Linked DNA regions of Homo sapiens. The protein of the gene in region 2 interacts with the protein of the main gene of each other region in a pairwise test. Each region holds a gene or a part of one and is shown on either strand. Other genes may lie near its edges.

Region 1 (7,942 bases), on a different chromosome or scaffold from region 2:
TGTATTTTGTACATTGGTCATTTCAGCCTCATTTGGCTCAGTCATCAAGTTAACCAAATATGAAGAATGCTGTAGATCTATAACTTAGTTTCGTTTTTAGTAAGACTAGACAAGGTGATAAAAATGAGTGTATATGTACACCTTTTTTTTTTCAGCAGGCATTTCTGGAGCAACCTGCCCTTCAACATTGGTGACCACCTTCATTCCATGTTAGCCCCTTATACCCATGGCCACCTTGTTAAGATCTGGAATTGACCACTCTAGAAATCTTGAACTCTCAGGAAATCTCAGTAGATCTGAGTTTATGTTGAAAACTTGTGAACCTCAGCTTTTTCTTCAGGCAGAAATCATACTAAGATTTATACTTTATAGGCTGTGTTCATGGCATCTTATTTAATTCTTATGACAAATCTGTTATCTCATTTATACTTACACATTTTTTTCTTTGGTCAGAACTACTAGAGACTGGGCGCAGTGGCTCACGCCTCTAATCCCAGCGTTTTGGGAGGCTGAGGCAGGTGGTATTTGAAGTCAGGAGTTTGAGACCAGCCTCGCACACATGATGAAACAAAATTACAAAAATTAGCCTGGCATGGTGGTGGGCGCCTGTAATCCCAGCTACTCGGAAGACTGAGGCAGGAGAATTGCTGGAACCCGGGAGGTAGAGGTTGCAGTGAGCTGAGATTGTGTCACTGCCCTCCAGTCTGGGCAACACAGCGAGACTCAGTCTCCCAAAAAATAAATAAAAATCCCAAAACTGTACTAGAGAAGATTTTACAAGGCATTTTTATCCCCTTTTATTTTCAGAGAAATGAAGGCAAAGCGAAATGAGGATTCATACCACAGAATTGTAAACATATATGGGCTAAACCCATTCTGTGCTATGGAGCTATGCTGGGAGTCTTGTTTTGGGTTTTGTTTTGTTTTGTTTTTTGAGAGTTTTACTCTGTCACTCAGGCTGGAGTTGCAGTGGTGTGATCTTGGCTTACTGCAACCTCTGTCTCCCGGGTTCAAGCGATTCTCCTGCCTCAGCCTCCCGAGTAGCTGGGATTACAGGTGTGCACCACAACACCCAGCTAATTTTTGTATTTTTAGTAGACACGGGCTTCCACCATGTTAGCCAGGCTGGTCTTCAACTCCTGACCTCAGGTGATCCACCCACCTCGGCCTCCCAAAGTGCTGGGATTATAGGCGTGAGCCACCGTGCCCAGCCAGGCTATGCTGGGTGTCTTTTTGAGGTAATTTTGAAATTTATATCTTTTAGTTCAAAAGTACTGAGCCACTAGGATCTGTGAATCAAACACAGGGATAATATAGTTACTACTTTTATTGAGTGCTTGCTTACATTGTACCAGCTGGGATATAAATGTATTATGTATATTTATTCTCATACACTATGAGGTAGATAATATAGCCACCCTCATTTTTACGTGTGAGGAAACTGAAAAGTAATTTGCTTAAGTTCTCACAGCCAGTAAGTAGCAGAGCCCAGATTCAGACACGGATTTGTAATTCTGTTTTTTTTTTTTTTTTGAGATAGAGTCTCGCACTGTTTCCCCAGACTGGAGTGCAATGGCGCGATCTTGGCTCACTGCAACCTCTGCCTCCCAGGTTCAAGCGATTCTCTTGCCTCAGCCTCCTGAGTAGCTGGGATTATAGACGCCCGCCACCATGCCTGGCTAATTTTTTGTATTTTTAGTAGAGACGGGGTTTCACTGTGTTGGCCAGGCTGGTCTCAAACTCCTGACCTCGTGATCCGCCCTCTTCGGCCTCCTGAAGTGGTGGGATTACAGGTGTTAGCCACAGTGCTCAGCCACAGATTTGTAATTCTTAATTCTTATGTAAATGAAGCCCTTACTCTTAAACACTGTGTTGACACCATAGAATGTTATGGGAAAAGAAAAAAAGTCCTGGCTTCTTAGCTCAGGAAGCGAACTTCAGTTCTTTCAGGCGTGTCCTTTGTACTGAGGCTCCAAAAGAGTGAGATGACCTTGACAGGGTCACTTGGCTATGCAAGGGCAGAGCCAAATCTTGCCCAGATCACTGGATTTCCAGATAGGTGCTCATTCCACTGGATAGCATTGCCTCTCCTGTGGACGCATTGACTTGATGGCAGAGATGACTTTAAGTGACAGGTTTACTTCATTCACCGGAATGAGAATGGCAGAGGACATTACTAGGGTCACAAATGACCTTCTTAAGGTCAATCCTGGCCTCAGGCATACAACCAGGAAGAATATTCCTTTGCCAGTAAGTTGTTCTTTTCCATTCTGTTTCTTGTTCTCAGAGGAAACTGGTTGTGAGTTATCTGATGTCTTACAGTCTTTCTTTTCATTTTGTTTATTCAGTTTTTCATGCATGCACTGTCACAGTTTAGGAAGGCTACAAGGTCATTTTAGTGTTTTCCTGCAGAGACTCAAAGCACTCAATATAATGTAAGTAGATTAATTGCAGGAGGAAATGGATTTTTAAAACTTTGGCCAAAAAGTGCCTATGGGAGAGGACAGTATTAGTTGCTGATTGGAGTCAGACCAAGGGAAGAGTTCTGTCTCTGCAGTGCATTTACCCTCTGTGCTGGAGCAGGTTCTTAACTTGTTTCTTCTTCTGTAAAATAACGACAATAATACCTACCTGTAGGGTAATTATGAGAAATGAATATAATAGCGTGTGGTAGATGCCTATCACTTAGTGGACCTTAATAAGTGGGAGAACACATTTTCATTTTGGAACAGCATGAAATCTGTCCTTTCAGCCCGTTACAGCTTCCTTGATGAGGAGGGGTGAGGCCTTTTGTAATTGTCTGCTCTGCAATATACAGTAAGATTTCCAAATGGGAGAGCAACCACTTGACATGAAGTAACCTAATTTAGTTGTGCTGTTGTGGTTTAGGAGCTGATTTTCAGTGGACCAGTGTGAGGTCAGTCTTACTTTTGAATGCACAAAGTAGTAGGATCATTTGTTTCAGGGAAAGATTGTTTCCTGATCTCTTTTGTTCATCCCCAAGTGTTGAGTGGTAATGATTGCGATGCGATGAAAACTTCTTCATATTTGACAAATAGCAATGATGATTAAATTCGGAACAACTGGTGTTTTCATTCTGACCAGAAGGAGAGATTTCCATTATAGTCATTTAAAATTTTTCTAACTGTACAAATTATCAGTTGAAGTAGGACCGTTGGTTTGGTTTGTGTGATTTGTAGTCACTTGAGTAACGTTTTCTTTGAAGTAAGCAGTTAGACAGTATTGTGGAATGGTTCAGGAAAAATCTCTCTGCCTGCAGAAAATTTTGCTAGGTTGCAGGAATTGTTGCACCCTTCCCACACTTCTCCATGTGTTAGCAGTGATGTACCTGATAGCAGTGAGACAGCACCTGTACTCATTTTCAGTATTGGAGTTGTATTTTCCATTTTGTTATTTTCAGATCTCCAGATAGATTACTTCTACATCCAGTACTTCATGAGAGCTTTCTATTGTATAAACTTGTAGTTTAAAGAGTGGAACTAGAGTCTAATCTTTGCATTTGAATGTTTCCAGTAGAATACGTTTAAAATAAAGGTTGAAATATCCATGTCTGGTCAGGCACAGTGGCTCACGCCTGTAATCCCAGCACTTTGGGAGGACGAGGCTGGCAGATCACCTGAAGTCAAGAGTTTGTGACCAGCCTGGCCAATATGGTGAAACTCCGTTTCTACTAAAAATACAAAAATTAGCCAGGCATGGTGGCAGGCACCTGTAGTCCCAGCTACTCAGGAGGCTGAGGCAGGAGAATCGCTCGAACCCAGAGGCGGAGGCTGCAGTGAGCTGAGATCATGCCCCTGCACTCCAGCCTGGGTGACAGAACGGGATTCCCTCTTTGAAAAAAAAAAAAAAATTCACGTTCAAGGTACTATATATAAGGTGTCCTATTTAAATGAATGCCATTCATTCATTTATTTATTTGCTGGAGTCTTGCTCTGTCGCCCAGGCTGGAGTGCAGTGACATGACCTCGGCTCACTGCAACCTCTGCCTTTTGGGTTCAGACGATTCTCCTGCCTCAGCCTCCTGAGTAGCTTGGGACTACAGGTGCGTGCCACCACACCTGGCTAATTTTTGTATATTTTGTAGAGACAGGGTCTCATCTTGTTGGCCAGGCTGGTCACGAACTGCTGACCTCAGGTGATCTGCCTGCCTCAGCCTCCACTGCGCCCAGCCTGAATACCCTTCATTTAAAGCCAATAGTATATCCTTTGCCTCCCGGGTTCAAGTGTTAAAGTCAATTGTATATTCTTAATAAGATTCAATAATTGTCCTATTCTTAAATACATTCATGAGTATGAACCATAAATAGTGATCTTGAGCAGTGTTTCAAAGTGTTTTAATAAGAGGAATGAGATGGGCCGGGCGCCGTGGCTCACACCTGTAATCCCAGCACTTTGGGAGGCTGAGGCGGGCAGATCATGAGGTCAGGAGTTTAAGACCAGCCTGGCCAACATGGTGAAATCCCATCTCTACTAAAGATACAAAAAATTAGCTGGGCGTGGTGGTGGGCCTCTGTAACCCCAGCTACTCGGGAGGCTGAGGCAGGAGAATCGCTTGAATCCGGGAGGCAGAGGTTGCAGTGAGCCGAGATCGCGCCTCTATTGCACTCCAGCCTTGACGACAGGGTGAGACTGTCTCCAAAAAAAAACAAAACAAAACCAAAAAAGGAATGAGATGACTCATAGGAAATGATGTTAGAGTATAGAATATTTTGTATCATGTCATTGGCTTAAATCTGAAGTACTGAAGGTTTTCACAATCCCAAATTACTGTTGCCCTTGGCCTCCAGAGCTGTAAACTGTCCAGTAATCTCTATGAAGTTGAGATTCTTTGCCCAGTGTTAAGAAGATATATCCCTTTGACACTGGCATGATCTGTTCCTTTTAAAAGAGAAGAGAGAAGGGGCTAATAAAGTACACATTATCTGCACAGTTGACATCCTTGTCATTTTAAACTGTTTTAAAAATTATTACTGTACCCTGAAAGTAAGTAGCATAGAATTTGCTCATTATGAAATGACGAAGTTGGGGCCTTTTAAGAAGCCAAGAATGCTTGGTTGGCAATCACTTAGGAGGCAAAGGATTGCTATTTATGGTGGTATTTAATGTCATTTTCAGTAGTACTAAGTTAGAAAGGAAAACGCCATAATGTGTGTAAAACTCTAACCATTTTGGAAGGTTATCAGAATACAGTTGCCTATAGTCTTTTCACTCCACTAAAATTTGTAAGTTGGTTTAGAGTAGCATTTCCCAAGCTCTTCCACTGAACATTAGTTCTGTGTAGTGCTAATCAGTGTCCTTTGGGGATAAAAAGAGGATCCTTGACAAAAAATGGCCAAAGTGAAATGCCTTTCTTTACTGCAGAATTATTATTCAGAGCCTTGGTGCTTATTTGCCTATGACCCTTCAAGAGGGAAGATACATTACGCGGTGTTACTCAGACTTACTTGGTCATGGACCGCTGTTTGTGAGAACACCTAATAAACGTTTCATGCTATGACTGGTGTGTAGTGGAGCCCAGTTGAGCAGTTCTGGTGTAGTCTATGAATAAAAAAATGAATCATTTTGTATAAGATAGCTTGGTAATCGTGGGAAAGGACTTTTCTGAGAACAAGATACATCTTCAAGGTAACGTAGACTCTTAAGGATGAATGTGATTTCAAAGGTCATCTAATCCAATGCCCAATAACAATAATAATAGTAGCAGGTACCATTTTTTGAGTACATGCTTTTTATCAAGCACAGTGTTGTTATTCTACATGCCTTATTAACCACTGGGTCTTAGTGATTTTTGAATCTTCTTTATTTTTTATTTTACTTTAATTAATTTTTTTGAGATGGGGTCTCACTTTCTTGCCCACGCTGGAGTGAGGTGGTGTGATCATAGCTCAATGCAACCTCAAACTTCTGGGTTCAAGTCATCCTCTTGCCTCAGCTTCCTGAGTAGCTGGGACTACAGGGATGTAGTACCATGCCTGCCCAGCTAATTTTTTTATTGTTAGTAGTGAGGAGGTCTTGCTATGTTGTCCAGGCTAGTCCCAAATTCTTCAGTTCAAGTGATCCTCCCACCTTGGCCTCCCAGAGTGTTGGGATTACAGGTGTAAGCTACCGTACCTGGCTTATTTTTTATTTTTTGAGATGGAGTCTCACTCTATGAGGTTCAAGGCTGGTCTTGAATTCAAAAAAATTTGTTTTATTTTTTAATTTTTAATAAACTAATAAATGGACGTTAAGGAGATGACAAATTCTGAATTATTTGCTTTGTTGTCCAGGCTGGTCTTGAACTCAGTGTCTTCACTACTGCATCCAGTCACCAGATAACTTTAGCATCCTGTTTTCCACGTTAGTGGTCTAGAGTGCTGCCATCCTCCCACTGTGTCCCCTTCTCCAGCTTATTCTCCACACTGTACCCAATGGTAAGGAACTAAACAGTCTTAAACATGGGGCTGGGAAAATCAGAATTACACTTTAAACGTGGGACTGATTGTGCCAGTCCAATGTTTAAGACGCATTAGTTCCTTATCATTGTCCTTAGAATAAAGTTTTAGTATATTAGCTTTGTCCAACCCTGTATACCTTTCTTTTTTTTGAGAGAGAGTCTCGCCCTGTCACCCAGGCTGGAGTGCATTGGTGCAATCTTGGCTCACTGCAACCTCTGCCTCCTGGGTACAAGGGATTCTCCTGCCTCCAAGGGATTCTCCTGCCTCAGCCTCCTGAGTAGCTGGGATTACAGGTGCCTGCCACCATGCCTGGCTAATTTTTGTATTTTAGTAGAGATGGGGTTTCACCACGTTGGCCAGGCTGGTCTCAAACTCCTGACTTCAGTTGGCCTCCCAAAGTGCTGGGATTAAAGGCATGAGCCACTGCGCCCGGCCTACCTTTCTAACTCTACTTCTAGCTTCTTGCTTCTGGGCTGCTGCTATACCAAACAGGAATGTAATACTTTCTGTCAGCTTCAGGCCTTTGCACATGCAGTTCACTTTGTCTATCTTGGTTTTTATTCTTAGGATTTTAATTCTCCTAAGAAGCTTTCTCTGACCAGCCTAAAACTTACGTAAGCCCTGGGTTAGGTGCTATGCTTATGTCCTCCCATAGCATTTTGCATTTGCATGTGTTGTAACTCTTAATGTACAGCATCATGATTGCCTATTTTAACTTTCCTGTTTGTTACAGTAGACTTTAATCTCTTTAAGGACAGGAACTGTGTCTTGTTTAGAATCCCCAGAGCTTATTTAGTACAATGGCTATGCTTATAATTTAAGTATTTATTGAACAAATGAAATTTTCCTAAGCCCTAAAACCTTGCAAGATGTTTTAGTGCAGGAAACTGGCCTCGATGGAGTTGAATAACTAGCACGAGGTCACTCACCTAAAAAGTGGTGAGGAGGGATTAAAATCTAAATCTGTTTAGCTGTAAAGATTGGGCTTTTTTTCTTGCTGCTGCACATGACTGCTCTCTCTCATGTTGCCTTTACACATCCCTGTCAAGTGTTCAAACAGCCCGTGCCTAACAACCCCATCCATAGCTTCTGAGGAAAGTTGTGTCATCTTTGGACAGCTCTGAGAGCTGAAGCGAGTCTTTGCAGAATAATTTCCCATCTATTGGTCTTAATTTATGCTTTGGAGAATATAACTTATTTTCAAAAAACAAATAATTCAGAATTTGTCATCTCCTTAAGGTCCATTTATTAGTTTATTTCATTCCTTCATTCACTGATAACCATTTACTGAGCACCAGTGCAATGTTCCTTTATTCTAATGACGTGGTCATTGCTCAGAATGTTTCTGGGCCTTTTTTGGGGATTATCTTCAGAACTTTTTTTTTTTTTTTTTTCGAGAGGGAGTCTCTCTTTGTCACCCAGGCTGGAGTGCAGTGGCGTGATCTTGGCTCACTGTAACCTCCGCCTACCAGGTTTAAGCGATT
Region 2 (7,942 bases):
TCAGAGGCTGAAGTCTGGATGACACAGGGCATCCGGCCTTCCAAGGCCTCGGGATGCTGGGATCCTACCACCCTGCAGCCGCTTGGCAGGTCTAAGGACAAAATCACCTTTTGAGGAAGTGCCAGGTCAGTTAACATCACTGTGCAAATCAGAAGGTCCAGGGCCAGATGCTTTGGCCAGAGACCTTTCAAACCAAAGCCATGAGGCAAGCACCGCTCCTCCCTTCTTCCCTCTCCTTCCCCACAATGCCCTCCCTCCCCCCACCCTCCCCCAAATTCTAAAGACTTTTTTCCCCAGGTTCTCAGCCTGGGGTATTAAGCTGCTAATAACACGCCTACATACTCAGGTGGTTTTGTTCTTGGTCTGTTGCAATGGTTCTCAGGAGACATTTCATTTGTGTCTGGGACATGGGAATGTCCTGAACTAATCTTGCTTAAGAAAAAACAACCAGAACACTCCCCTAGAGATGTAGCCTGCTCAACAGCTCTGAGTTCCTACCCTGGACCACATCTGTTTATGCTCTTCAAATGGAATCCAGCCTTCAGATGAACCACTGCAATAAACCCTACTCTCTGCTTGCCTCTAGACTGGGATCCCCAGGGACAGGACACTTAGGGAAGAGCAGAGAGGACATGGCCTGGTCAGGTAGGAGGAAGGGGATAGAGCTGGAAGGGCAGGGGCTAAGAGGGGGACAGTTGGGGAGAGGCAGGAGATTAGAAAAAGCAGCTTTTACAAAAACCAAAAATAAAAATCAAAACCATTAAAGATGCATAAAGTGACCCTTGCACTTCCGTTGTCTCTTCTTGCAAATAGAGGTGGTGCTGCTAGGGAACTGCTCCAGCACCGGTGTAAGACTTGAGTAGTTGCATACAATGTGTGACTCCAGATCTGCAGAGGGAAAGGGGAAAGAAACAGTGTCAGTGATATTCAGGAGGCTTCTCCCCTCAACTCGGGAGCCCGCTGTGCCTTCCTAGTGAAGCTGCCTGCCTCCCGCCTGTGGAAGTTGTTGTGCTCTGGTGCCAAGAGCCCTGGAGGAGATGGGGGAGGCCAGATGATGTGGGGGGCCAGAGGATTTCAAAGTGACATCCCTGGAGCCCTATGGTTCACTGTCACTGCCTCAGGAGCTGCTGAGGGGACCAAGGAAGCCAGAGGTCTGGGTCAGCCCAAAGCCTCCAAATAGCTCCAACCAAAGCTCTTAACATATGATCTGGGCAAGAGTTCATTTGAAGAATGGGGCCCATAGTTAAAAGAAGTCCGAAGACCATAAGGTAAATGGCACAGAATTTAGTACTAGAGAACTGAAGTTTAAGCCCTAGCTTAATTTTTACTGGCTAAGTGATATTTAACTACATATTTATCTGTAAAATAGAGCTAATGATCCTTATTTCACAGAGCAACTATAAGGATTATGAGATAACATAAGCAAAGGGATAGCTATTATTATTTCTGTTATTATTTAGATTTCAACAAGCAGTCAACAGAAGTGATAGCTATTATTAAGAGTGATATTATGGACCTTGGAGCAGGAAAGCAACTGGTAACTTGACAGCTGTTACCTGCCCTAGCTGACACCTGTGCTCCAGACCCAAACCAGGGACTTTGAGGCAGTTCCTGTATGTATCCCCCTCCCACTTCTCTCACCCTGGCCACACTCACTTGGATGGGCTGCAGGCTTTACCAGTGTGGGGGCACGTAGCTGTACGCAGGGGTTCCTTGGGCCCTATATGTTGGCATGGAGACAGGGTGTGCCCCAATCGCCGTGTGCTGGGGTGTAGTCAGCAGGGTACCTGAGCATCCAGAGAGAGAAGAGTAACCTGACGAGGCTGCACCAGACACAGGAATGAAGAGGATGAAGCTACAGTCTTTCACATGGCTGCTCCCTCTGCCCAAATCCCCCATCTCCCTCGCCTTCCTGATGACCTGTTTTCTGCCCTTCTCCACCTCACCAGGCTTCACCTCCTTAGGGGAATTTTTTCTGATGCTTGAGGACAGAATCAATGACTATTCTAAGTCCTCCTTTTCCTTTTTTCTTTGAGACGGAGTCTCGCTCTGTCGCCCAGGCTGGAGTGCAATGGCGCGATCTCAGCTCACTGCAGCCTCTGCCTCCTGAGTTCAAGCGATTCTCCCGCGTCAGCCTCCTGGGCAGCTGGGATTACAGGTGCCCATCACCACACTCGGCTGATTTTTTATTTTTACTAGAGATGGGGTTTCACCATGTTGGCCAGGCTGGTCTCGAACTCCTGACCTCAAGTGATCCGCCCACCTCGGCCTCCCAAAATGCTGGGATTACAGGCATGAGGCACCACGCCCGGCCTTCCTTTTACTTTTCTTTGTATGCTTCTCTTATTGCACAATCATACTGAGTAGTAATTGTGATGTCTGTGGCTGTGTTTCCCACACTAACCTGGGTGTTCCTTAAGGACAGTGTTCTGATCTGATCTATTGATATTGGGTTCCCAGGACCTGAACAAGGCTGGCACTGAGTAGATATCCAACAGTTTGCCAACTTGATCTGAGGAGTAAGAGGCCTCAACCATACCCTTACGTTAGGGACAGAATAAAATCCAAATGCTCACTCTACCCCTTGTACTTTCTTACCTCAGATGGTATCCTAGCTGGTTCTTTAAAAGTTGGGTCTCTAGGCTAGGCATAATGGCTTATATCTGTTACCCCAGTATTTGGGAGTCTGAGGTGGGTGGATCCCTTGAGCCCAAGAGTTCAAGACCAGCCTGTGCAACATGGTGAAACCCTGCCTCCACAAAAAAACACAAAAATTAGCTGGGTGTAGTGGCGCATGCCTGTGGTCCCAGCTACTTGGGAGGCTGAGGTGGGAAGATCACTTGAGCCCAAGCAGATCAAGACTGCAGTAGGCCAAGATCGTGCCACTGCACTCCAGCCTGGGTGACAAAGCAAGACCCTGTCTCAAAAAAAAAAAAAAAAAACCTAACAGTCCTTGGGGACTTCTGCTTTTGTCATCCCTCATAATTATTATAATTATTGCACAGGTCCTTAAGCTCCTGCCTAATAAAGAACATTGCCCCTGTGTCTTCTTTTTTGGCGCCCCTGCTGTTACTGGAGTGCTAGCATCATCTCTCTCCCCTAAAGTACACTGACAGCCTCCTCACTGACCTACTTGCTTCCAGATCACCCCTTCTAATCCTGTCTCCACTCTGCAGCCAGAGAATGTTTAAACCTAACCACATCCCTGCCCTGCTTGACCCCCATTGTGTGCAACAGAGGTACCACAAGGTATTCAGGACTTTCCACCATCTTATCCTTGCTAGCGATCCAGCCACCTTCCAACTCCAAGCCCCTATTTCCGAAGGGCCTTGGCTCCATTCCTCCATTCTGTGAACATGCCATGTTCATGTTCTTTCTGCACCACCCTTCCCTCTTTCACTTCTCTAGTTAGCCTGTGTTCACCCTTTAAGGCCTAGCTCGATACGTCCTTCTTGGTGAAATCTTCCTCATCCCCATAGACAGATTTAGAGGCTCCTTCCTCTGGGTTCCCAAGCCCCCTGGCACAGGATCTCTTGTGCTGTGCTGCAGCCAATTCTATGACTGTGTTCTCTGCTCCGTTTTGAGTTCCTAGAGGAAAGGGATGGACACTGATGCAGATGCTGCCCTCACCTGCTGACATTGCCATGGTGGTGCCTGCCACCATGCCCATGGCCACACCGTTGGTCCTCGGGGCGGCAACAGGTGCTGGGTAGATAGCAGAGGGAATGCTGTTGGGCTGGACGACCGTGGTATGGTGGATGACATGAGGCTGGGCAGCATACACCGGCTGTGTGTAGTAGGCTCCCTGGGGGAAAGAGGCTGAGGTCACATAGGCATTTGGAGAGGTAGGTGGGATATGGAGAGAGCAGCACTGGCTGAAGGACACAAGGTCCGGACCCCAGCTGGGGCTCTGCTTGTCTTACTATGTGACTGTGGTCAGTGCAGTGCTGGGCTCAGCTTCTGGTCTGAAAAATAAGGCTCTAATCCTGTCCTGCCTTGCTCATAAGGCTGCTATGATGATCTAATGGGATAAGAGCTCTACTCCCTTAACCTTGGTTTTAGCATTTTAAAATGTTTTATCTTACTGCAATGAACTTTTATAAGCTGCCTAAAATTTAAAGTTAGGAATAACAATCAATCAGTTACCAAGCATGTGAACAGGGCTGGTAAACTCCAGAACACATACACAAAAGGATAATTAGTAGTAGTATCATAATGGTGTAAGTGCATGTTGTAAAAAAAAAAAGTACATGTTGAAAAAAAATGGCGGCTGGACACAGTGGCTCACGTCTGTAGTTCCAGCACTTTGGAGGCCAAGGCAGGCAGATCACTTGAGGTCAGGAGTTCGAGACCAGCCCGACCAGCATGGTGAAACCCCATCTCTACTAAAAATACAAAACAATGAGCCAGGCATGGTGGCACATGCCTGTGGTCCCAGCTACCTGGGAGGCTGAGGCAGGAGAATGGCTTGAACCCGGGAGGCGGAGGTTGCAGTGAGCTGAGATCACGCCACTGCACTCCAGCCTGGGTGACAGAGCAAGACTCCGTCTCAAGAAAAAAGAAAAAAAAAAAAAGGCATACATGGATAGCATTTTCCAGGATGTCTCTTAACTAGCTATTTCCCTTTAGGTAAAAAGGTAAGGATGAAGAAGACAGTGGTCCAAGGTGACTCCCAATGCCTGAATCACATGGCTGCTTCCTGCTGCCACAATCCACTGGCCCACTGACTTGTAGGGGAAGTAAACAGGAGCCCCTGAGATCATCTTAATTCAGAAATCTTCAAATGTTTCTACTAAATGAGATTAAAAAAAATAAAACAAGAGGCTTGAGATCAATTTAAGTTTTGTCTTCTACTCTAAAATATAGCTGTTTTTTAAACTAAAAAAGTATTCTCCTCACCACTTATGTTTCCTATAGAGTCACTCCAGAAGAATGTGTCATGGGTGTGCTAGAGCCCCATATGGTCCCCTCTCTCATACCAATCCTGGAATGCATACATCTTCTAGCTGAAGGAGCCCAGAAAGGCCCATCAGGCACAGAAAGAGAGGGTAACTTGTCCAAGGTCACAGAGGATACTGGTGGCAGGGCCTGTGTACTTTCCTCCTCCCCACTCAGCTCACAGACTGAGGAAGGGTAGATGTGGGGGTTAGGGAGAAAAGACTAAGACGTTGGGGTCTCACCTTGACCAACCAATAGCTCGTGGTGTAACCTTGGACAAGTCATTCCCCTCTTTGGGTCTCAGTTTCCTCACTTGTTTAACAAAGGAGTTGAGCTAGAAAATCTCTGAGGGCCTTTGTCCTCTGACATTCTGGGCTCTGTTAATCTAAATGACTTCATGCCTACCCCCTCTAGGGGCTGAGGTGGAGTGAGGGAGTAAGCAGACTGCAGGGATATTGCTTCAGTGATACAACAAGGACGGCTAGCCAGAGCCACAAACCATCCTCTCCTTCCCTCACTTCCTCACCCTACCCCACCACACTGCACCCAGGCTGAAGGCTCCTCTACCTGCAGAAGAGGTGGCTTTGACATGTACCTACCTGGGCATACAGATTCTGCTGGGGGTAGGCACTTCTGATTGGATACATGGCCGTCTGATAGGGGTTGGGTGATGGGGAGTAGGGGGGTGGAGCAGTGTTACTCTGGGTCGGTGGGACCTTGTATGGTGTCCCCGCAGTATATCCTGTACCAAGGCAATAAGAGAGACTTCCAGTTAGTTGGCAGAAAAGCATTGCTAGAAGGCAGCAGGTCCCAGTCACGACTCCCCAGACAAAGATGGGCTGAATCCAGGCTGGAAACAGAGATGAGAACAAACAGAGAACAGGGCTCCACCCAGAAAGCCCTGGCCCCAGAGGCAGCTCCCTCAGTCCTGGTGCACAGGGCTGCATGGATGATTCTGGGCATCTTTTCTTTCTCTGGGTCTCAGGGCTCTCATCTATAAAATAAGAGGCTAGAACCACATGGTCCCTTTTAGCTCTGACAGCCTGGGATTTGGAGCTGTCTGTGTGAAATGGGCAGGTGCACAGAGATGGAAACCCTCAACTCACTTGCTCTTTATTGCTACTCTACTTGCTTTTCTGTCTTCTCACACAGAATCCAGGGTATCTTTTTGCTGCTGTTTCTGTCTTTCTCTCTTTTGCTCTATTTCTTTTTCTCCTTATCTCTCTCTCTCTCACTCTCTTCTTGGACTTCCCTCCATCATGTTCCCTCCCCTCCCCACCAAGTTTGAAGGTGAAAACCCCATACAAAACACCATTCGGAGACCCTCATCTTCTGGGATGCTGACCATACAAAACACCATTCGGAGACCCTCATCTTCTGGGATGCTGACCATACAAAACACCATTCAGAGATCGTCATCTTCTAGGATGCTGAAAAACTTTGCTCTGCAGAGTTGGCTCCTCCTTCTCTCCTGGGCTCTAGGGGAAGGCCACCTCTGCCTGAAAATACCTGAAGTCAGGGATCACAAAGATTCACATCAACCTGGAACCTGGGCCATGTCTGTCCCTCAGCAGGATGGACAAAAGCTGGAGCTAAGAATGGGGCTGAGAAGTCAGGCCCCAAGAAGCTCACAATTGCCCATGTAAATAAACTGTGCTGCCTTTTAATCCTCCGGAAAAGAGTGACAGATCCTTTGTTCACAGAAAAAAACTTGAAACATGAGTCATTCAGGAACAACACTGTCTCCTTTTAGAATCACAAAATGGAATCGTTCTACGGAACCCAAGTGATCATCAAGGGACTCCAATCCTTGGACTTTACACAAGGGGATCCTGGGCTCAGAAAAGGCAAGTCTTTTTAATAACTTCTCCTAAAGACTCTAAACTCTTCTAAGTTGAAGGGACAGTGCCTGAGGACCTAGGCTTTGAAGCCCTGCTGGGGAGGTGCTGAGGTGGCTTCTTTCCTGTGGTTCCATCTTGGGTAAGTCTAGCAGACCTCACTGAACCTCTCTGGGCTTCAGCTCTTTCACCTATAAGATGCTCACCAAGGACCCTTTCAGCTCCGAGGTGCTGTTTCTATCATATAATAAGGGACTAGGGGCAGAGTGGAGGGAGTGCTTTATTGGAAGAGAAGACATCTAGTCTTCAGTCCTGGCTTTCCCCCTAATTTTTCATGACAATTGTCAAGTCTTTGGGCCTTAGTTTCTTATTTTGTAAAATCAGGTGGCTAAGAATGAAGATCTCTTCCTAAACAAAAATTCCATGGTTCTAAAGATCCTGGGTCTCTTCTACCTTAACCCCAAGTAAAAGCAAACTACCACATGGTCACAAATCTTTCTCAGTCCACATCACACCTCTTTGGCTTAGCACCCCCCTGCCCCTGATGACTCAGGAGGATAGGAGAGCTGCTGCACAGCTGCCACAAAAGTCAGCCTGTTCCTGGATTCACGTCATTTATTTTTTCACCTGCAGATCCATAGTTTTTTCCATAGTTTTGTGATCAAATATGCTTGGGAAATAAGTAACAATGAGGATAGAATGGAAAGTACATATGAAAGAGAGGGAAGCATGTTAAAGAGAAGTAGAAACTAACTGGAAGTGCAACTATGAGCTGAGTGAGAAGTCTAGAGCAGATTTCTCAAAGTTTCTAGATTATGGAGCTAATGATGAAATGTGGTCATAGGAGGAGAAGCAGATACTGTGGGGGAAGACAGGGAGACTAGCTTTGCAGATGTCTAGAAGGAACCATCTGATGTGTACGGAGACACAATTTACTTATCTATAAAATAAAGGGGTTTTATAGATAAACCAGAGATAGACATTTCCCAAATGTGGACAACGTACTATAGATCCCAAGGGATCTTAATAGTTGTTTTTGCCAAAGAAAAGGAAACAAAAGAGTTCTATAGTCCCATATGTAAAATAGAGATAAACAGTTAAGATTTTGTTTTTATTCCATGACCCTGAGAAGTTTTTAAAACAATAGGATGGGCTGGATGTGATGG
Region 3 (8,556 bases), on a different chromosome or scaffold from region 2:
CAAACTCCTAACCTCAGGTGATCTGCCCGCCTCAGCCTCCCAAAGTGCTGGGATTACAGGCATGAACCACTGCACCCCGGCCCCTAGAAGCTTCTTTTTTCAATGATTTCTGTAGAAGTCCCAGGCTTGGCTTGAGAGTCATTGCTCTGCTATGAGTCAGGTGCCCATTCCTGAACTAATCACTGACCAGGGAGAGAAAGCTCTGATTGACTCAGGCTCAGAGCTGGAAGGGAGAAGGAGTCGCTCCCTTCAGCCTATTCAGATTCTTCCCAAGAGTTTAGTTTTAGGCATGGTGGCTCATCCCTGTAATCTCAGCACTTTGAGTGGGTGGCTGAGGCAGGGGGATCAACTCCAGGAGTTTGAGACCAGCCTGGGCAACATTATGTGATCCTGTCTCTACAAAAAAATTGGAAAAAATAGCCAGGTGTGGTGTAGTCCCAGCTACTTGGGAGGCTGAGGTAGGAGGATTGTTTGAGCCTAGGAGATTGAGGATGCAGTGAACCATGATTGTGCCACTGCACTCTAGCCTGGGTGACAGAACAAGACCCGGTCTCTCTCTCACACACATACACACACACACACACACACAAAAGGCTGGGCATGGTGGCTCACTCCTGTAATCCCAGCACTTTGGGAGGCCAAGGTGGACAGATCACCTGAGTTCAGGTGTTCAGGACCAGCCTGGCCAACATGGTGAAACCCCGTCTCTAAAAAAATAGAAGGGCCGGGTGCAGTGGCTCATGCCTGTAATCCCATCACTTTGGGAGGCCAAGGCAGGCGGATCATCTGAGGTCAGGAGTTGGAGACCAGGCTGACCAACATGGTGAAACCACGTGTCTACTAAAAAAATACCAAAATTAGCTGGGCATGGTGGCACATGCCTGTAATCCCATCACTTTGGGAGGCCAAGGCAGGCGGATCATTTGAGGTCAGGAGTTCGAGACCAGGCTGACCAACATGGTGAAACGGCGTGTCTACTAAAAAAATACCAAAATTAGCTGGGCATGGTGGCACATGCCTGTAATCCCAGCTACTCAGGAGAATCGCTTGAACCAGGGAGGCGGAGGGTGCAATGAGCCGAGATTGCGCCACTGGACTCTAGCCTGGGCAACAGAGTGAGACTCCATCTTAAATAAATAAATAAATAAATAAATTTAGAAATACAAAAATTAGCCAGGTGTGGTGGCACATGTCTGTAATTCCAGCTACTTGGGAGGCTAAGGTAGGAAAATTGCTTGAACCTGGGAGGCGGAGGTTGCGGTGAACTCCGCGCCACTGCACTCCAGCCTGGGCAACAAGAACGAAACTTCGTCTCAAAAAACAAAGAAAAAAAGTTTAGCTTTGGAGTTTAGGCTTGGGTTTTCCAGGGTTACCACTTTTTAGCTGTGTTATCTTGGGCAAATAATGGAAGCTTTCTGAACCTCAGCTGTAAAATAAGGATAACGGTAGTCTCTACCTCTTAGGGTTTTTTATGAAGAGGAAATGAGGTACTGCATGCAAAACATTTGCACAATGCTCACTACTTTGTTGTCATTGTTACTAGTTCCTTTCTCCAGCACCTGCACTTCCAGGATGTTGGCACAGGTCCTTCCTTCCCCATGGGCTAGAAGGAAACTTCCTCCTGTGAGAGCTGTCATAGCTCTTTCTCTTGATTGTCTATGTGGCATTTGGTTTCTGCTCATGTTCATGCTGCCCAAACTCAAAACTTCTCTGTCCTAGACTTTCAACCCCTAGAAGGGAAAGGATGGCTCCATTCTTTTCAATGTCCTTAATAAGAGAACTGCCATCAACACCCATCCAGTGCATTTACAGTTTCCAAAGCATTTCCTCCTCTGCCTTTTCACCTGAGCCAGAATGCAATCCTAGGGAGTGGGAGGGGTTATTATTCCCACTTCACAGATGGGGAAACTGAGGTCCAGGGAGGGGCAGTGACGTCATGGTCAAGCAGCAAGTCGGTGGACAAGAAATTAGGTGTTTCTGGATTGCCAACACAAGTTTCTTTTTGTGGGACAAATAGTTTTGAATATAGAGTTCAAGCCTTTGGTGAAGATCCCGGGGAGCCTGTTCTGCACCTGTGCTAAGTGATTCTTTTCATTCAGCATGCAGTCTGTCCCTGTCTGCTGCCTGCCAGTCTTTCCCCCAAAGTCCCTTCCTGCTTGAAACCCTCCTTCCCTAACCCCAGAGACACCCCTGGCCTGCACTGCCAGCTCTTTCTTCTGAAATACACCTCTCCAACCGGCCCCCATCAGTCTGCTCCATTATCCACCTGGAACCAACCTCCAAACCTCTGCAAGGGCAGATGAGAGTGTCTCCTCCAGCCCTGTTTTCCATGGACTGCTTTGGGCACGGATGAAATTGTTCAGCTTATCCTGCAAGTTCCTCTGCAAGACTGCTTATGTGCTCTAGACTCATAGAACCTGGAATTGAATCCTAGCCCTGCCACATGCTGCCTCAGTTTCCGCATCTAAAATAGGAATAGGGCTGCTGACGTCAAGGGATCATCATGAGGATGAATTGAGAGAGGAATGCCAGGGGGCTGATACGCTTCAAGGAGGGGGTCCAGGAAAGAGAAATGACTTTGAGGAATGCAAGAATGTCCCCTCTGACCTTGCACGTGGCGGTCTTCCGGCCTCAGGACACCCTCCTCCACTTCCCAAGCCTGGGCTAATCTGGTATTCTCCAACTCACTTCCTGTCCTGTAGGTTAGCTCATCATCTCATTATCTGTATCCAGTTCTCTTTCCAGGCTTGCATATTATCTGTGCGGCTACACACACTTGCTAGGTGGGTAGTGAAGGGAGTATTAGGCTCTGCATATGGAAAAGTGGGCCTGGGTGGCCAAGCCCCAGCATATCTCCAAACCTCAATTTCTTGTCTGTAAAATGTGAACAGCAAGAATGTGCACCTTGCTGGGCACGGTGGCTCACACCTGTAATCCCAACACTTTGGGAGGCTGAGGCGGGAGGATCACGAGGTCAGGAGTTCGAGACCAGCCTGGCCAACATGGTGAAACCCTGTCTCTACTAAAAATACAAAAATTAGCCAGGTGTGGGGGTGCGGGCCTGTAATCCCAGCCACGTGGGAGGCTGAGGCAGGAGAATCACTTGAACCTGGGAGATGGAGGTTGCAGTGAGCTGAGATTGTGCCATTGCATTTCAGCCTGGGCAATAGAGTGAGACTCCGTCTCAAAACAAATAAATAAAAAAAGAATGTGCACTTGTGGAATTGTGGTAAGGTTTTAGACCAGCACTGGTCAGCATGGTAGCATCTAGCCACATATGGCTATTTACATTTAAATTAATAAAAGTTTAATGAAGTTTAAAAAATTCAGCCCCTCAGTCTCACTAGCCACATTTCAAGTGCTCGCTGGCCTCCTGTGACTCGTAGCTATCCTACGGACAGCACGCAGAAAGAACATTTCCATCGTGGAGGGAAATTCTGCTGAACAGTGCTGATTTAGAAGCATCACGCCCGTGCTGTGCATCAGCTCTGTGTTATAACTCATCTGACATTGTAAACTCAGGGCAGAAGCATGATTGCAGTGTAAAGTTCTGCTTTCCTTGGAGATGGGGTAAAGAGGTGAGGCTCACAAGGAATGTTGGACTGGTTGAGGGCATTCTCTGGGATGAGGGTGGACCAAGTTCAAAACGGGGAGCTCCGGCTTCTGCTGCAAGGCAGGCACATAGGGCATAATTCCCTCTGCTGGTGGAGAAGGGGCACCAAGCAGTGGGAAGGGTGGTTAACTGGAGAGTGTTTCTAGCATCTAGAGCTACCAGTGTTTGACTTTTCAAAGGAAAAGTGGCTATGTGGTTTTGCAAACGTGTTACAAGCTCTCTCCATTTTTATCGTATTTATTGTATCACTAGCTAGACTAATAAAGAAAAAAGAGAAGATACAAGTAAACATAATCAGAAAGGGCAAAGAGGACATTACCACCGACCCCATACAAACACAAAAAAGCCCTCAAAAACTATTATGAACACGTCTATGCACACACACTAAAAAACTTACAATAAATAGATGAATTCCTGGAAAGATACAACCTTTTTTTTTTTTGCCAGAGAATGGAATTCCAGATCCTGGGTTGTTAGAACCTTAAGGGATACTTTCATCCCCTGGTTCCTGTACAGGGAGGAGGAATCTGAGGCTCAGAGAAGTACAGTGACTTGTTTAAGGTCCCTCAGTGAGTTAGGGCAGAGGAAGACTTCTGGCCACAGCTTCCCTGAAGCCAAGGCTAGGCAGAGTGTTGATGTCACCCAGGCAACAGGGATGGTGCCCTCTGCCCACCTAGCAAGCCCTGACTCATGCTCCGCGCCCCTGCTGTGAGAAGTCTCTGCTGACTCCCACCCTGATTGGAGCAGGTTAGTCAGCTTTGAGGTGCAGCCTCCAGTTCTGGCCCCTCCAGTTCCGGGACTCTCATTCGAGGCATTTGGGGCTGTCTCATTTCTGTGCCCAGCACAGGGCTTGGCACAGAGGAGGTGCTTTGTGGGTGCCCGCCAGTCAAGGGTTTCCGTTTTCGTGCCATGTAGGTAACCCCTTGCCATTCGTGCCCTTAGGTAACCCCTTGAGCAGCCTAAAGAAGCCTAGAGACTTCTCCGTTTTTGAGTATATTTTATTGACGTGAAATACACGCACGGAAAAGCGCACAAATCCAAAGTGTACTTCCGCGCATCTTCATAAAGTGAACACACTTGTAGCCTAAGAACCCAACCCTACCAGCGCCCGGCAGGCCCTGGCCCCCTTCCAGTCTCTCCTACTGAACAAGGTTTTTGAGTGAAACCGGCAGGCCGGAGCGTGAGTTTCTGCTTGACGGGGCGGGGTCTGCGCGTGCTGCCCGGCCGTGAGTGTGGGGGGGCCGTGAGTGTGTACGGGGTGGAGTGGCCTGAAGGGGATTAGAGTGCGCGCGTTCGGGTATTAATTTGCCAGGGTTTGTGTGGCGCTCGGGATTGGGGGTTTTTTGGGGGCTCGGGCGTCGACTGTGGGGCGCTGCGGAAGGGTGGGTCGTCCGCGTGGGGTCCTGGAGCGCAGGAGGCGGAGGGGAAGCCGCGCAGGGGCCACTAGGGAGGGGCTCTGGCGGGGTCGCAGGGGCGTGGTCTGCGGGCGTGGGGGCGGGACCTCGGGGCCTCGGGGGCGGGGCCTGAGGGCGCGCGCACGCGTCCGGCGCGCCCCCTCCCGGCCGCCATGTTGGCTGGTGTGTGGGTGTCAAACTGAGCCAGACGCGGCGGTGGCGGCGGCTCCGCGGGCTACGGTCGCTCCCGCCTCTCGAGCGCTGCCGGTGGCCGCAGCGGCGCACCCACGCCGGCCCGGAGGAGCAGAGGTGAGCCACAGCCCGTGGGGCTCCAAGGCCAGAGCGAGTCCCCGGGGCGAGGACCCTCCCCCTCTCCAGGGCGCGGACGCCCCCAGAGCACAGGCTCCCCTACCTCACCAGCCCCGCCAGGGCATGCGCCCCTGCCGCCCCGCTGGTCCCTACGCCAGGCTCTGGGGGATCCCCTTCTTTCCAACCAGGCCCCGCCCCACGGACTGGAGCATGGCCCCCTTCCCATCTGGATCCAGCTTTCCGCTGCAAGGATCTCCCCCCTTACCCGTCCCTATCACCGAGCATCTCCTTTTATGTCCCCAGAGTCCAGGGCGCCCCTTACTCCTACCTCGGATCCTGGAGCCCCGTTCATCTTGGAACAACCCCGCCCCCTCCCCAGAGCACGTTCCTCCTCTCCCCGAGCCCGGCGCCCCTTCCTCCTGAGCCCAGCCTGGTCTCCCGCCAGCCCCCGTGCAGAGCCCGGTCCGGGCGCCCTCCGGGAATCGGGGGAGGGGTCCTTATCTCTGTCCGGGATCCCGCCCGTCTCACCTTTCCTGGGGGCTGTAGCAGGGCCCCCTTCCGTCCTTGGGGACCAGGCTCCCCACTCCCCAGCCCCCACTCCCACGGAACAGCGGGGACGGGGGCGGAAGAGCCAGGCTCCAGCTGCCTTTTGTTCCGCGTGGGATGGCAGAGACCCACCCGGCCCGGCGGTCCTGCTCGGCTGATCCGGGTGGGTGAATGGGTGCGTGGGGTCTGGCCTCTTCCAGGAGAGACTTCCTCTCTCTCCCTGTGGGGCGGCTCCCCTAGAGCCGAGAGCCGAGCGCGTTGGGAGGCTGGCCTTTGCTAGAGGAGTCGGTGCCAACAGGTTTTTGTTTGCGACCTGAAGTTTGCCCAGTGGCTTTCCCTGGGGCAGCTTGAGCTCCCTGTGAATCCCCCCGCCGGAGCTTGTGGAAGGCCGTTTCTCCGCCCAAGGAGTCCGTCTGGGCGACTCCTTCACAGTTGTGCTTCCCTGGGGACGTATCTAAAATCTGTGCTTTAAGAGCGGAGAGGGCTTAACCATCATTAGGGTTCAGATGAGGGAAACTGAGGCCCAGAACTGCAGTAATTTGCCCAAGGTCACGCAGTGATACTGTGTCAGTGCAGAACTAGAAGCTAGGTCTCCAGGCTCTGTTTACCACATTTAATAACTTTTTTATCTTTTAGGGAGATGTTCAGGACCCTACCTTCCCCTTTATTTTTAATATTTATGCAAGAAAGTGGGCAGGAAAATATGAGAAGTAATGAGTTATTCCTTTTCACCTCCAGAAAATATCCTGTGAAAGAAGGGATTGGAACAGGGTGTTAAAATGATGGGAAAAGGTGAATTTTAAGAATCCAAGCTTCCTCTCATTATGTAATATAACGAAGATTTGGCAGAAAACGTGCCTCTTGTAGCTCTAGATACAGAATTTTAGGTGCTGACAAAATCTTATGCTGAATCTGGCACAGCAGTGATTGAGTTAGCATTGATAATTAAGTTTTCATCTGTATTTAAATGAACATCAAAAGGGACTACAATTTGCTTCTGAATGGTACTTGTTCGGTGCTTGTTTTTGGGACAAGTGATTGTGTTGGGGAAGCGCACCTAAACTTTTAAATTTTTTATTTATTTATTTTTTTGAGACGGAGTCTCTGTCACCCAGGCTAGAGTGCAGTGGCACGATCTCGGCTCACCGAAACCTCCGCCTCCTGGGTTCAAGCGATTCTCCTGCCTCAGCCTCCGGAGTAGCTGGGATTACAGGCGCACGCCATCCACCACGCCCGGCTAATCTTTGTATTTTTAGTAGAGACGGGATTTCGCCACGTTGGCCAGGCTGGTCTCGAACTCCTGACCTCATGTGATCCGCCCACCTCGGCCTCCCAAAGTGCTGGGATTACAGGCGTGAGCCAACACTCCCGGCCTAAATCTTTTATTTATCTGTATTTTTACTTTTACATTTTAAAAGCTTATTTATTTCCCTGGTTTTAAAATTGGGCTAGTCATCTTTACCAGTCTCACTGGGCTATTCTTTTGTAAGCAGGGAATGAGATACTGGTTATTAAAGATTTTGGTAAAGTGTAAGTTACTGTAAGGCATGATTCAGGACTGCGTCCCACAAGTCCCCGGACCAGGAGCCAGTTCGGATTGTCTTGTGGGATGTACCAAGTTTCCCTGGTTTACAGAGGCTTTTTGCCTCTCTGAAGCCTGAGCTGGCCAGATGGAGAGCTCTGTGGAAAACTTCCAGCAGTGTGTGTTGGGCCAAGCACTCGAGGTGTGAAGAAATGTAAAACTTTCAAGTGATAATATCTAGCATCGTGTATGCAGCCTTGAAAAATGACCCAACCTTTGTAGAAATTCTCTGTTATCACTAACCCTCTTCCATAATGAGCGGAGGATTTCCCAAGAATTGGGATTCTGATAAGAGTCCTGCAAAAGTTGAAAAGTTTTCGGACTTTTTTTTTTTTTAACTTTAATTAGGAGGAGCGGCAACTTTCGGTTGTGAACTGAAGTACTATGAGATTTTTATGCATGGAATTGTCCTTGTCATACTTTTGGAAAGTACATTAAAATTTTCTAAGTTTTCTGGCGGTTCTCACTGTTCCCCATAACCTTTCTCTCTGGTGTATAGGGGTGTGAAGGACCACGATTGTTGTCATTTTATGACATGTATACCTGGTGACCCTGAGCCTTGGAGAAGTCAAAGGGCTTGGATTTGGGGAATTTTTTTTTTTTTGAGATGGCGTCTCACGCTGTCACCCAGGCTGGAGTGCAGTGGCGCAATCTTGGCTCACTGCAAACCTCTGCCTCCTGGGTTCAAGTGATTCTCCTGCCTAACCTCCCGAGTAGCTGGGACTACAGGCGTGTGCCACCATGCCCGGCTAATTTTTGTATTTTTAGTAGAGATAGGGTTTTGCCATGCTGGCCAGGCTGATCTCGAACTCCTGACTTCAAGTGATCCACCTATCTTGGCCTCCCAAAGTGCTGGGATTACAGGTGTGAGCCACCATGGCCGGCCTTGGATTCGGGGAAGTTGAGGCTGGAAAAGATGTGAGGAATTACGTAGTTTGTATCCCTTTTTTGTCTGCTGGACTTTTAACTCATGTATTCGGTGTAAACAGACCTCTTCTGTCAATACTTTGCCGTCTAGCTCGTCCGATGTTTGGCCCCTTTTTCTCTGCTATCCTACCTTCACCAACCCACACAGTCTGCTGGTGCACTTACGACATTGTCCGTGTATCTGG
Region 4 (7,942 bases), on a different chromosome or scaffold from region 2:
GAACTCGGGAGGCGGAGGTTGCAGTGATCCGAGATTGTGCCACTGCACTCCAGCCTGGGTGACAGAGCGAGACTCCGTCTCAAAAATAATAATAATTTTAAAAAAAGAAACTGAGGTGCTGAAAAATATCTAGTCCCAAAACTTGTAAGGGTCAGCGTGGAACTTGAACTCAGTTTGGACCCAGAGTTCATGCCACTAATTATCCTTCTATAATTAGTGAGTGCTATTTATTCTGAAAGTACATCTACTATTGAAGATCATCTACTGTGCCATCCGATATGCTATGTCCTGGGGCTTTGGGATCAAGTGACACTTTGGTTCTGCCTTCTTGGAACTTAAGTTTTAGCAGAGGAGACCAAAATTACACATAGTTTCCTAAATAAGTATATTAAAGTATTGTTGGAAGTACTTTGAAGAAATGAGGTACGTTGTGTGATTGAACCAGGGAGGAACATCTAGGGGATAATCAGGAACAATTTTTCTCTGAGGAGAAAGCAAAGAACCGAACAATGAATAGAGTTAATTTGGTCCAAGAGGCAGTGAAGAAGAGTAGTTTAGCTGGGGAAGAGCCTGCAGTGGAAGGAAGGAGCAAGTCATGGAACTGAACCATTGTTACTACTGAATGGTGAATGCGGGGGGAAAAGGTATGAGGTAAGGCCCGCTATGTCAGCAAGGTCAGGTGATGGTAGCGTTTTGTAGGCCATGGTAAGGATTTCGGTTTCACCATGGTGAGATTTGTGGTTTAAAAGAAATAACTCAAATGCCGTATGAAAACATGTCAAGGGATGGAGCCTGCAAGGCAGTACTTGGGCTAGAAGCAGAAGCATGTCCTTTGGTCACAGAAGATTCAGTTCTAAAAAGATCGTTGAAAACGTTGATTTTACCCTCCACACATGAGGATGTACTTACTTATCTGTCCTAGTTTCTAAACTAATTTTCATTGGACAGTTGAAGAAAATCTTGATGTTTTATGTTAAATTGTTTAGCCCGCCCACTGAAGATTTTGAGTTTAATTTTTGATTTAAAACCTTTCCTATTGTAAAAATACACAGATAATAGGATTCTTAGAGCTGTTAAACTCTAGACTAATTGTTTGCATATTTATATCCATAATGATGGATGTTATTTTACCATATTTTGTCCACATATTAAAGTTAACACAATTTTCGTTTTCTTTCTCTGAACTCATCATCTGCTTTGTTCTTCCTTAATAGCATCACCATCCTGTGGTCACCTGATCTCAGCGTCTAGGTCAACTTTGATTCCTTTCTTCTTGCCCTGATGGCCAGTGACATACACAGATCCCATCGACTCTAACTCTGCAGTCAGTGTCTTGTATTCTTCTCCTCCCCCTAGGTACTGTTGGCTCTTGTTTCCTGGCACCGGTTGTCTCCTACATGCCATCTTACACATTGCAGCCAGGTTGATTTTTCTAAAGCACAGCTGTCATTGCATTGCTTCCCATTGGCTAGAAAATAAAATCTGAGCTCTGTTTCAGTTATCTGTTGATGTATAACAAACCACCCTAATACTTACTGCTTCATAGAATAATTTTGTTTGTTGACAGTTTTATGAATCAGGAGAATTGAGAAGTGCTCACCTGGGCCATTTTTCTCTGGTCGACATGTTGTCAGCAGAGGTGGCCAGTGCTGGAGCATCCGCTTCCACAATGTCTTCTTCGTTCACATGCCTTGTCAAAGACTGCTGGAAGGCCGGGCTCCACTGGCTCTTTCCCTCCACGTGTAGTGTCAGGTCTTTCTGTGTGATCTCTCAGCAGGGTATTCAGACTTTTTACCTGATGACTCTGGGCCCAGGAGCCCTAAGTGAAAGCTGTTGTGCTCACTCGCTCTTTCTCTTCCTTTCTTTCACTTTCTTTTTCTTTCTTTCTTTCTTTTTTTCTCTCTCTCTCTCTTTTTCTCTCTCTCTTTTTTTTTTTTTTTTTTGGACAGAGTCTCCCTCTGTCGCACAGGCTGGAGTGCAGTGGCACAATATCAGCTCACTGCAACCTCCTCCTCCCAGGTTCAAGCCATTCTTGTGCCTCAGCCTCCAGAGTAACAGGGATTACAGGCATGAGCCACCACACCCAGCTAATTTTTGTATTTTTTTAGTAGAGTCAGGGGCTGCTGTGCTTTTAAAGGATAAACCCAGATCTGACACGTCTCTCACTTTAGCTTGATATGGCTATTCCTGTGAAACCTTCACTGACTACCTGCCCTTCCCCTATAGTCTTTTTTTTTTTTTTTTTTTTGAGACGGAGTCTTGCTCTGTCGCCCAGGCTAGAGTGCAGTGGCCCGATCTTAGCTCACTGCAAGCTCCGCCTCCCGGGTTCTCGCCATTCTCCTGCCTCAGCCTCCTGAGTAGCTAGGACTACAGGCGCCCGCCACCACGCCTGGCTAATTTTTTTGTGCTTTTTTTTTTTTTTAAGTAGAGACGGGGTTTCACCGTGTTAGCCAGGATGGTCTCCGTCTCCTGACCTCGTGATCCGCCCGCCTTGGCCTCCCAAAGTGCTGGGATTACAGGCTTGAGCCACCGTGCCCGGCTATAGTCTCTTTATTACACTAGTGACTTTATTCTCTGATTGATGGGACTCTGAGTTCTTTGAGACAAAATCCATTTGAGAGTTTGTTTTGATGTATTCCCGATGATGCATAACCAATTCTTGTTACATAAAATGCTGTAGCAGTACAGTCAGCTCTCCATATCCACAGCTTTCACATATGGATATGGAGAGCTAACAGTAAACTTTTTCTGTATTGATTTAATATTAATTGTATTAGTACAGACTTACAAAAGGATGGATATCCAAAGAATGGTTAGGATGAGCAACTGGTATTTGAATGAAAAACAATCGTTTATAGACATTTTTAAAAACATGCTGGGAAGAGGTATTGTGGAGGCCTGGTGTGACACGGGCATGTCATCTTCTTCCAGCCTGTGCCTAGCTCTGCTTTGCCCACTTTTTCTTTTTTTTTTTGAGATGGAATCTCGCTCTGTCACCCAGGCAGGAGTGCAGTGGCGCATTCTAGGCTCACTGCAAGCTTTGCATCCCGGGTTCAAGCATTTCTCCTGCCTCAGCCTCCCGAGTAGCTGGGACTACAGGTGCCTGCAACCACGCCTGGCTAGTTTTTGTATTTTTAGTAGAGACAGGTTTTACCGTGTTGGCCAGGCTGGTCTTGAACTCCTGACCTCAAATAATCCACTCACCTCGGCCTCTCAAAGTTTTGGGATTACAGGTGTGAGCCACTGCACCTGGCCTGCTTTGCCCACTTTTTGCTGGGAAGTCAAAGGGATTAACTCATTAAATTTGAAAGTCTTTAGTGACCCCCAAATCTGTTGCAGAAGTGGCAGGCATATTTACAGGAAGTATTCTGGAGAGCCAGGGGCACTACAGAGCCCTAGGATCATACAGTAGTAGTTTAGGAGCATATACATAAGGAAAAATGGAGAAGCAGCATGAATAGAACAAGGAGAAAAAAATGATTTGTAGAAGACAGCCTCAAGCATTCTGGTCACGAGGAAGTGAAGGTGAGATTTTGAAAACCAGAAAATTGGGTGAGAGAACCGTGAGCGATTCTCTTTTCTTCCTGACTTCCTTTGTTTCCCATATTTTCTGTAATGGGCAATACTTGATAACTGAAGAAAATCCTAATTGTTGTTGCCTAGGCCATGTTTCCTGACTCTGGTTCTATGGCCATGGTGAATAACAGCTCCAGTCTTTGACAGAGGAAGAAGTTTTTGGAGCCACTCGTTCAACAACTGTGCTAGGCATTGGAAATACAACTATAAGTAAGAAAAGAGGCCAGGCACAGTGACTTACGACTGTAATCTCACCACTTTGGTGAGTGTCGGGGGGGTGGATCACCTGAGGTCGGCATTTCAAGACCAACCTAAGATGGCGAAACCTCATCTCTACTAAAAATATAAAATTAGCTGGGCATGGTGGCAACATGCCTGTAACTTGGGAGGCTGAGACAGGAGAATCACTTGAACTCTGGAGGGGATGTTGCAGTGAACTGAGATTGCACCATTGCACTCCAGCCTGGGCAACAAGAGCAAAACTTCGTCTCAATAAAAAAAAAAAAAGTAACTTGGAATGGGAAAATAAAGATTTTTTCCCCCCTTGAACTGTATTTTATTAATAAGCACTGCATTTCCTGTGTACTTGTGATTACAATGCAGCTATTTTGATGGTATTTACCATATACAAAGTGGCTTCTCATTTTTCAACATAGCCTTGTAATGTAAGAATAGCTATTTTGATTTTTCTGTTTCGCAGGTAACAGTTAATAAAAATAGCACAATGTCACACTTAGTATATATCAGGCACTGTGCTAAAACTTCATGTAATTCAACTGATTTAGTTTTTAAAAAGTTTTTATTTTTTAAAATTAATGAATTTTTTTGGAGGTAGGTTCTCCCTCTGCCGCCTATGCTGGAGTGCAATGGTGCTATCATAGCTTACTTGCAGCATTGAACTCCTGGGCTCAAAGGATTCTCTTGCTTCAGCAACCACAGTAAAGCTGGGACTTGGGCACATGCCACTCTACCTACCCGCAACTAATTTTAAAACAACTGTATTCTCATTTTACAAATGAGGAAATTGGCCTAGGAGATTGAACAATTTATCTGGAGCCACCGATTGACTAAATGGGAAACCAAGATTTAAACATAGGCAGTATTATCCGAAGCCCAGATTAAAAGACTTGAGTGTCAGAGAGTTAAATGACCTGATACAGAGACTTACATTTAGTTAAGAGTAGAAATTCCATCATCAGAATTCTTTTCTTCTCACAGGTTGGGGCCACTGGTGTGCCACTCATGAGGAATTTTTTGAACCGTTACTAGCAGTCTGCTTAACTACAAGCCTGACATTTCAACTAAATTAGCTGTAAAAATGACTCACATCTCCCTTTGATTTTCAGTGTAAAATTGAAGGAAGCCAGTTGTGGTCAAAGAAAAAATAAGAAATTTGGCTTGGGGCCAGGCACGGTGACTCGCCTGTTATCCCAGGACTTTGGGAGGCTGAGGCAGGCAGATCACTGAAGTCAGGAGTTCAAGATCAGCCTGGCCAACATGACAAAACCACTTCTCTACTAAAAATACAAAAATTAACCAGCATGGTGGCACGCATGTGTCGTCCCAGCTACTCAGGGAGGCTGAGGCAGGAGAATCGCTTGAACCTGGGAGACGGAGGTTGCAGTGAGCTGAGATCGTGCCACTGCACTCCAGCCTGGGTGACAAAGCAAGATTCCGTCTCAAAATTTGGCTTGAAAATAGTGTTCAAAATACTTTTTAAAAATCTGGCTGGGTGTGGTGGCTCACTCCTGTAATCTCAGCACTTTGGGAGACCAAGGCGGGGAAATCACGAGGTCAGGAGTTTGAAACCAGCCTGGCCAACATGGTGAAACATTGTCTCTACTAAAAATACAAAAAACTAGCTTGTTTGGTGGCGGGCACCCTTAATCCCAGCTATTCTGGAGGTTGAGGCAGAAGAATCGCTTGAACCCAGGAGGTGGAGGTTGCAGTGAGCTGAGATTGCACCACTGCACTCCAGCCCAGGTGACAGTGGGAGACTCTGTCTCAAAAAAAAAAAAAATCTTATTTGGGGAAAAAAAAGGACTTGATTAGATGCAGTTCAAATTTGATACCAGAGCTGTTCTTTTAAATACCATGCTACTTATTAATAACATCAATATCATTATTTCAAATGAGAGACCCAAACTTACGCTGATATATGTCAGTTTTAAAAGTGGGAATACCTGGGGCCAGGCATGGTGGCTCATGCCTGTAATCCCACCACTGTGGGAGGCTGAGGCGTGTGGATCACCAGAGGTCAGTAGTTCGAGACTAGCCTGGCCAACATGGTGAAACCCTGTGTCTACTAAAAAATACAAAAATTAGCCAGACATGGTGGCGCATGCCTGTAATCCCAGCTACTCGGGAGGGTGAGGCAGGAGAATTGCTTGAACCCGGGATGCAGAGGGTTGCAGTGAGCCGAGATCGTGCCATTGCACTCTAGCCTGGATGACAAGAGCGAAACTCTGTCTCAAAAAAAAAAAAAAAAAAAGGAATATCTTTTTTCAGTTATCAATGCTAGAAATTTCTGTTGTAAAACTTTGCTAACCTGGTTTTGATATCTGTATATTTTGATAGTATCTATAACTTCACATTCTATAAGTTGAGAAAATGCTGATATTATTTGACTATTAACTCTTTGTAGACATTTAATGAGAAGCCCCGATCTGGGGCTTACTGCCTCTGAGGCACAGTGGTTTCTCCCAGGAAGGCAAAGAAAATTGAGATTTTCTCAGAGAGGAAGGAAAGGATTGAATCGCTTAAACCTGGGAGATGGAAGTTGCAGTAAGCCGAGATCGCACCACTGCACTCCAGCCTGGGTGACACAGCAAGAAGCACATTTAAATCTTGTGTTTATAGTAATTTGGTGTTTGTGGAGATTCTTTCTTGTCTAGTTTTTTTGTAACTGTTGTCCATGGAATTTTTTCTGTTACTATGTAAGAATTTGAGGAGATTCAAAGACTATTCTGCTGTTACTACTACTGTCTTCCCAGAATTTCCTTGTGGTTTTATTTTATTTTACTTTATTTTATTGGGACGGAGTTTCACTCTTGTTGCCCAGGCTGGAGTGCAATGGCTTGATCTCGGCTCACCGCAACCTCCACCTCCCGGGTTCAAACGATTCTCCTGCCTCAGCGTCCTGAGTAGCTGGGATTACAGGCATGGGCCACCATGCCCAGCTAATTTTGTATTTTTAGTAGAGACAGGGTTTCTCCATGTTGGTCAGGCTGGTCTCGAACTCCTGAGCTCAGGTGATCCACCCGCCTCGGCCTTCCAAAGTGCTGGGATTACAGGCGTGAGCCACCACGCCCGGCCCCTTGTGGTTTTAGTTTACATTTCTCTGATGTCTCATAATGTTGGACACTTTTTCATTTATTTATTGGCCTTTTGCGTTTCCTCGGGGTACTCAGCCGTTGTTAATTCAAATTGTTTGCCCCATTTTTCCTTTGGGCAGATGTTTTTTGGTGGGGGGACAGGGTTTCACTCCCATTGCCCAGGCTGGAATGCAGTGGCGGGATCACAGCCTACTGCAACCTCCACCTCTCGAGCTCAAGAGATCTTCCCACCTCAGCCTCCTGAGTAGCTGGGACTAGGTGCCCGCTACTGCGCCTGGCTAAATTTTTTTGCTTTTTTTGTAGAAATGGGTTTTGCCATGTTGTCCAGGCTGGTCTCAGACTCCTGAGCTCAAGTGATCTGCCTGCCTTGGCCTTCCAAAGTGCAGGGATTACAGGCATGAGCCACTGCACCCCGCCGGGATTCTTTTTCTTTTCAGTTAACATGCAAGAGTTTTTATATTTTCTCCTGGTGGCTTGCCTTTTCATTCTGAATTTCTTTGGTGAGTAGACATGCTTAATTTTAATGTATAGTGTTTCAGTTTTTTCTTTTATGGATAGTACTGTTTATGTCCTGTTTAGGGTATCTTTTGCACCTCTAAGATTGTGGAGATTTTGTGTTATCTTCTAGAAACTTATTTTACCTTTCTGTTTAAATGTGTAGTTATCTAAAATTGTTTTTGTGTAAGGCATGAGGAAGGGGTTGTTACCCCCTACTCCCACCCCATATATGGCTTTTGAGTACAGCATCATATAGTAGAAAGGTCATGTTTTCCACTGCTCTGCAATGCTACTTTTGTCATAAACATTCATATAAGACTGAATCTGGGGCCAGGTGTGGTGGCTCACGCCTGTAATCCCAGCACTTTGGGAGGCCAAGGTGGGCGAATCACAAGGTCAAGAGTTCGAGACCAGCCTGGCCAACATGGTGAAACCCTGTCTCTACTAACAATACAAAAATTAGCCGGGCGTGGTGGTGCATGCCTGTAATTCCAGCAACTCTGGAGGCTGAAGCAGGAGAATCGCTTGAACCC

Evidence for each region.
Region 1: the proteins of FAM168A (region 2) and NFYC interact in binary tests that used the Homo sapiens proteins (3 or more experiments, as listed by UniProt).
Region 3: the proteins of FAM168A (region 2) and EPN2 interact in binary tests that used the Homo sapiens proteins (3 or more experiments, as listed by UniProt).
Region 4: the proteins of FAM168A (region 2) and RNF216 interact in binary tests that used the Homo sapiens proteins (3 or more experiments, as listed by UniProt).

The regions. Positions count from the first base shown.
Region 1 is NC_000001.11:40,694,508-40,702,449, forward strand, and holds part of NFYC (nuclear transcription factor Y subunit gamma), read left to right. Parts: intron 1-1,098; exon of another isoform or gene 1,099-1,238; intron 1,239-7,942. UniProt on the Homo sapiens protein: Component of the sequence-specific heterotrimeric transcription factor (NF-Y) which specifically recognizes a 5'-CCAAT-3' box motif found in the promoters of its target genes.
Region 2 is NC_000011.10:73,405,857-73,413,798, forward strand, and holds part of FAM168A (protein FAM168A), read right to left. Parts: intron 5,681-7,942; coding exon 5,538-5,680; intron 3,806-5,537; coding exon 3,631-3,805; intron 1,788-3,630; coding exon 1,675-1,787; 3' UTR 1,657-1,674; intron 889-1,656; 3' UTR 1-888.
Region 3 is NC_000017.11:19,232,216-19,240,771, forward strand, and holds the start of EPN2 (epsin-2), read left to right. Parts: upstream 1-5,150; 5' UTR 5,151-5,316; intron 5,317-8,556. UniProt on the Homo sapiens protein: Plays a role in the formation of clathrin-coated invaginations and endocytosis.
Region 4 is NC_000007.14:5,770,901-5,778,842, reverse strand, and holds part of RNF216 (E3 ubiquitin-protein ligase RNF216), read left to right. Parts: intron 1-179; exon of another isoform or gene 180-1,356; intron 1,357-7,942.